Linked DNA regions of Homo sapiens: region 2 is linked to region 1. The links come from fine-mapping of genetic effects on gene expression. A gene starts in region 1. The other region holds a variant in brackets. All regions are shown on one strand. Distances are from middle to middle.

The links. PIP is the estimated chance that this variant, and not a neighbour inherited with it, causes the effect.
Region 2: its variant is the best candidate, but not a certain one, in a credible set for the expression of USP34 in lung (GTEx, PIP 0.74).

What each region holds. Positions count from the first base shown.
Region 1 is chr2:61,469,709-61,472,614 of GRCh38, reverse strand. It overlaps USP34 (ubiquitin specific peptidase 34), which reads left to right and starts at 1,528. Exons shown (of 80, transcript NM_014709.4): 1 at 1,528-1,965. The coding sequence starts at 1,923. USP34-DT (USP34 divergent transcript) reads right to left here and starts at 1,519. Exons shown (of 3, transcript NR_185882.1): 1 at 1,236-1,519. RefSeq lists silencers at 1,277-1,586, 1,617-1,696, 1,787-2,206.
Region 2 is chr2:61,238,664-61,241,569 of GRCh38, reverse strand. USP34 (ubiquitin specific peptidase 34) reads left to right here. Exons shown (of 80, transcript NM_014709.4): 53 at 1-10. Among named protein-coding and RNA genes, the nearest start is that of C2orf74-AS1, 62 kb to the right of the region's middle. The variant C/TCTTC (reference allele first, on the strand shown) is at 1,325.

The DNA of each region.
Region 1 (2,906 bases):
AATAAAAAACAATTAGTTACGTGTGGTGGAGAGCGCCTGTAGCCCCAGCTACTAGGGAAGTGGGAGGATCCCTTGAGCCCATAAAGTGGAGGCTGTAGTGAACTGTGATCGCACCACTGCACTCTAACCTTGGCGACAGAGTGAGACTTTGTCTCAAAAAAAAAAAATTCAAATAAAAATAATTGGGGTTGTGTTGGCAGGGAAAAAAGGGATACGTGGGAATGTATGTTGAGTGGACAACGAATGTCTGCCTCAGGATCCAAAGTAAGTCTGCAAAAACCCAATTCTGTGAGAAAGACAAGGAAGAAGGGAAGATGATGGTAGAATAGAACTACAATCCTAAGGATCACCTGCTAGTGGGAAACAAAACGGGTTGGGCAGACTGTTTATAGTATCAACTTCAAGCAGCAGAAAGGCAAAGCATTTGGAACCAGGTGGTTCTGGCATGGAGAGATGGGCGTGCCATAACCTCCACAAAAGCTATCGAGAGAATGACTACAGAGCCTTGACAGACACTCTGGTTACCGTTCAGAGATTCTGTACACGATCTTTCGGACTTTGCAGTCACATGTCTATGTAAACACGTTGAACACAAAAATTAGCAAGCAAGGGGTAAGTGCCGGCGTGAGGAAAATTCCCTTACAAGCTTCAGCTGACTGCCCCCTTCACCTGTTCTTTATCTTAATATCCTTGTTATTCGCTCTCTGCTGAAGAAGATTTCTTGCTATTTCAGGTGGGGCTGATGGGCACATCGTGAGGGGCCCTCTTCCGTAAAAACGAGACGATGTCAGGCAAACACTCCTTACCCTGCCATTTCTAGTTACGTCAAGGATCTTACTGCTCCAGGACGGAGGACCTTCAAGGAACTGCAGGGTAGCGATAATCACCGATGCAGTTAAGCCGGGCCCTGGGCTGATTCACTCTCAGACCCCGGGGGGAGTGGCCCTTGCGCCCGAAAGAGGGCTACGGCGTAGACCCGGCCCGGCACCCAAGTTGACTCCTTGCTTCCCGTACCCCAAAAGCCTAAGCGCGGAAGAGGCCGGGGACACCAAAGAAACCCGCACCAACTCCCCGACCCAGGCCCTGGGGAAAAATGGCGAAGCCCAGGGGCGGGGGACAGGACGGAGCGAGTGACCTGGCGCTCCCCGGGCCTCAGAGCCCGTGGAGTGGGTCGTGGTGGGCGACGCCACGCAACCGCGACCCGTCCGTTGCCTCCGCCATCTTCTCCTACTCACCCGGACTCCCCCCGCGGCCGCGCTGGCTTCGCGTTTCCCTTCCGGCCGCTGACAGAGATCCGGGCTGGGCGGGGTGGGCGAGCGCGCGGAGGGGGTGGACCGAGGGCGGGGAGGCCGGACGGAAGAGGAAAGGGAGGGCGGCGAGCCGGCCACGGCGGGGTGTGGAGCGTGCGGCGTGTGTGCGGAGGGAGAGGTGGGGGGCGGAGGAGAGGCGAGAAAGGGAGGGAGGCGGAGGAATGAGAGCGCGAGGCGCCTCTCGTCCGCTCCTAAGCCCGGGCGGAAAGAGCCGAGCGCAGCCCGAGCGCTCTGTTAAAATGGCGGCGGCGTCGGCGGTGGCCGCGGCGTCTGGTCGGTGAAGTGACTCTGCTGCTTCTCTCCCCACCCGCCCCCTCCCCCCCTCTCCCCTCCCCCCGTCCTTCCCCCCCTTCCCCGCCGCCGGCGCCTCGGCGCCCCTCCGGCCTGCGCACCTCCCCTCGCTCCCCTCCTCTCCCCCTCCCGCTGCGGGGACCGCCGGCCCCCTCCCCCATTCTCTTGCTCCCCGCCCCGTCCCCGCCGCCGCCCGCCCTAGTCGCCTCCCCGCCCCGCCGGCCGGCCGGCCCCCTCCTCCGCCTCTCTCCCCTCCCCCCCGCCGGTCGGGATCAGTCAGTGTGATCCGAAGCGGGGGAGGGGGGGGGCGGCGGCCGAACGATGTGCGAGAACTGCGCAGACCTGGTGGAGGTGTTAAATGAAAGTAAGTAGCCGCGGTAGCGGCCTGTCGGGGTGCACGGTTTGGGGTCCTCGCGCAGCTCTCTGGCCTCCCCGGGCTGCCGCGGCCTGCGGGAGGCGACGGCCGGGCCGGGCGGCGTGCGGGCCTAGCGCCCCGGGAAGGTGCGCGGTGGCGCGGCCGCCGCGGCGCCTCGGGCCCAGCCCGGCCGGGTTACCTGGGCGCCCGAGAGGCGGCCGCCGCGGAGCTCCGGCTCGGCCTGGCCCGGGCGCTCTGGGCTCTCGGAAAGTTTCCTCATTACAGGTGTCAATTAATGAAGGCAGTAATGAACCCCTCGCCGCCTTCGCCTCCTTCGCCCTGCCGGGAAGGTGCGGGGAGGTGGGGTCGGAGGACGAGGCTTTCCTCCGCAGTCCAAATCCTCCGGCCGCCCTCTTTGATTTCCAGCGTGCTGCCGAGGCCTCTCTTACCTGCTAATTTTCATTAAACTCCCGGGAGCAGGGTGGTGGTTTTTCCCTCCCTTGCGGGTTTGTGGGTGTCTTAAACACTTCAGCCAGACCTTAAATAGCTGAAAACGAACTGTGATAGTGATGATTGGAACCTTCATACCTATTTTTAAAATAAATTTGTTAATGATGTTTCTTAGTGTAGCATTCACCGCTTTAATGGTACATTCTGTTAAGCAGAGCACTGTACTACACATACCATCCCGGGATAGTTATGGCCTATCTCTCTTGGAAGGAAAGGCCTTTTACCTGGTACTTTACTTTTTATTATTAAAAAGGGTACGTTGATCTTTTCTGGCCTTTTTATTTTATTCTCGACCCTTGCAAGATGGTATTTCAGCTTATAGAAGATATATTGCAAATCAACTACTTCTGGGCGTAAAGGCCTAGTTGGCAGAGGTGAATTAGATGAAGGGATCAATTTACAAAAAGTTGATTGTTGAAAAAATGCTCACTTATGAACAG
Region 2 (2,906 bases), 230 kb after region 1:
GTTACTAGAGGTATAAGTTAATTTCATTTGAGCAACATTTTAAAAATATGTTAAGTGTTTATGCAAGGAATACTGTAGTGTAAGAACAGGTTCTACAGGTTGATATCTGCAATTCTGAGTAGATCTTAAGAGTATTTACAAATAGTCTTGGTAATACTGATATAAGACCCGTAAATGAAAATGAATGAGATTAAATGGAGTAGAAAATATCACTAAAAGAGAGTAGGCGACTGGGTGTGGTGATTCATGCCTGTAATCTCAGCACTTTGGGAGGCCGAGGTGGGTAGATCACGAGGTCAGGGGTTCAAGACCAGCATGGCCAAATGGTGAAACTCTGTTTCTCCTAAAAAATACAAAAAGTAGCCGAGCGTGGTGGTGGGCGCCTGTAATCCCAGCTGCTTGGGAGGCTGAGGCAGAGAATTGCTTGAACCTGGGAGGCGGAGGTTGCAGTGAATGGAGATCACACCACTGCACTCCAGCCTGGGTGACAGAGCAAGACTCCATCTCAAAAAAATTTAAAAAGGTGGCAGAAAGGTTGAGGGAATCAGAGTGACTTAACAATTTGTGAGGTTAGTAATGTTTTGCTTCTTAGATTGGATGATGGGTTTGTAAGTGTTCCTTCTGTTGTGTCTCATGATACAGACCCATGCCCTCAAGCATGCATTGTAATTGAAATGCCATTAAAATGTATTTTACACCCAGGCGCAGTGGCTCATGCCTATAATCCCAGCACTTTGGGAAGCTCAGACAGGTGGATCACGTGAGGCCAGGAGTTTGAGACCAACCTGGCCAACATGGCAAAACTGCAGCTGTACTAAAAATACAAAGATTAGCTGGGTGTATTGGTGGGCACCTGTAATCCCAGCTACTCAGGAGGCCTAGGCGAGAGAAGCCCTTGAACCTGAGAGGCGGAGGTTATAGTGAACCGAGATCACACCACTGTATTTCAGCCTGGGCAACAGAGCAAAACTCTGTCTCAAAAAAAAAAAATGGGCTGGGCGCGGTGGCTCATGCCTGTAATCCCAGCACTTTGGGAGGCCGAGGCGGGCGGATCACGAGGTCCGGAGATTGAGACCATCCTGCCTAACATGGTAAAACCCCATCTCTACTAAAAATACAAAGAATTAGCTGGGCATGTTGGCGGGCGCCTGTAGTCCCAGCTACTCGGGAGGCTGAGGCAGGAGAATGGCGTGAACCTGGGAGGCGGAGCCGAGATCGCACCACTGCACTCCATCCTGGGCAACAGAGTGAGATACTGTCTCAAAAAAAAATGTATTTTACATATTAAGGAATACAAATGTGTTCATTTGTAGTTATGAGGCTT[C/TCTTC]ATTTCAGAATGTTGTAAGTAGTAATAGTACATTATTGAGTACATAACTGAATGTGTTTTGGTTTGGTGTTAGGAATTCAGTCAGCCAAAAACACAAAAAAGCAAATCTTCTCCAGAAATGCACACCTGATTAAATTGTATGCATTTGTCTAGGCAATTCAGCTTTTACTATCTGGATAAAAAAAAAATTTTTTTTTTGTAATATTGGGATCAAGTCTTTTTTTTTTTTTTTTTTGAGAAGGAGTCTCGCTCTGTCGCCCAGGCTGGAGTGCAGTGACGGGATCTCAGCTCACTGCAAGCTCCACCTTCTGGGTTCATGCCATTCTCCTGCCTCAGCCTCCCTAGTAGCTGGGACTACAGGCACCCGCCACCACACCCAGCTAATGTCTTTTTTGTATTTTTAGTAGAGAGGGGTTTCACTGTGTTAGCCAGGATGGTCTCAATCTCTTGACCTCCTGATCCGCCCATCTCGGCCTCCCAAAGTGCTGGGATTACAGGATTGTTCTCAAATGCTTTTAACTAGTATCTTGCCTGCACATGTGTTAATGGTAAAAAGCCAGGAATGTTGTCTTTTTTCAATTCCATGAATTGGATTTAGCAGCTGAATTAGATGGTATTCATTATAAATGGCTTCATTAGATTTGAAGCTACTAAACTTACCTATTTGTATAAAAATTTATCTCAATCATCATCATAACCACAATTAATTTGAATCATTTTTGTGCACAGCCTTTTGCCCTAAAGATATTAGACAAATCTAGACCTTGCTTTATATAAGTACCCAACAGTGTTTAATGACAATTAGCCCACTTGTGAAGTAAAATGAAATTTTAAATAAAACCTTTACAATGATGATGTATTTTGTTTATTTACATCAGTGGTTCTCAAACTTCTGTGTGTGTGTGTGTGTGTGTGTGTGTGTGTGTGTGTGTGTGTGTGTGTGTGACAGGGCCCTCATTTAAAGTGAGGAAGCTTAATCATTTCTAGCTTTTGATTTAAGGTGAAAGATGTGTGACTCCTCCTTTTACTGGATACAGAGAGGCCATTGTAGGGTTGTTAATTGGCCTAATTCCAGTATTGTCTCAGAGAATATGGAGGCCTGAGGAGAGGGAGAAAGTGAACAGCTACTCGGTGCAGTCAGAACACACACAACATGTATTAAGTTTGCCGTCTTATATGGGTGTAGTTCGTGGTACCCTGAAACAATCACAACAGTAACATCAAAAATCATACTGGTTATAGATCACCATAATAATATAATATATAATAATATATAATAATGATGAAAATGTTTGAAATATTTCAGGAATTACCACAGTGTGACAGAGACAGAAAGTGAGCACATGCTATTAGAAAAATGGTGCCAATAGACTTGCTTGATTGCAGGGCTGCCACAGCCCTTCAATTTGTTTAAAAATACAGCATCTGCAAAGTGCAGTAAAGTGAAGCACAATAAAATGAGATATGCCTGTACATTAGAAAATTCCTCATTGCAGACCTAAGCCAACAATTTTTTCTATAATTGTTCCAGCTTACTATTTTTAAATGGGTGTGCCTACATGTTTTCTTAAAATTAAATTTA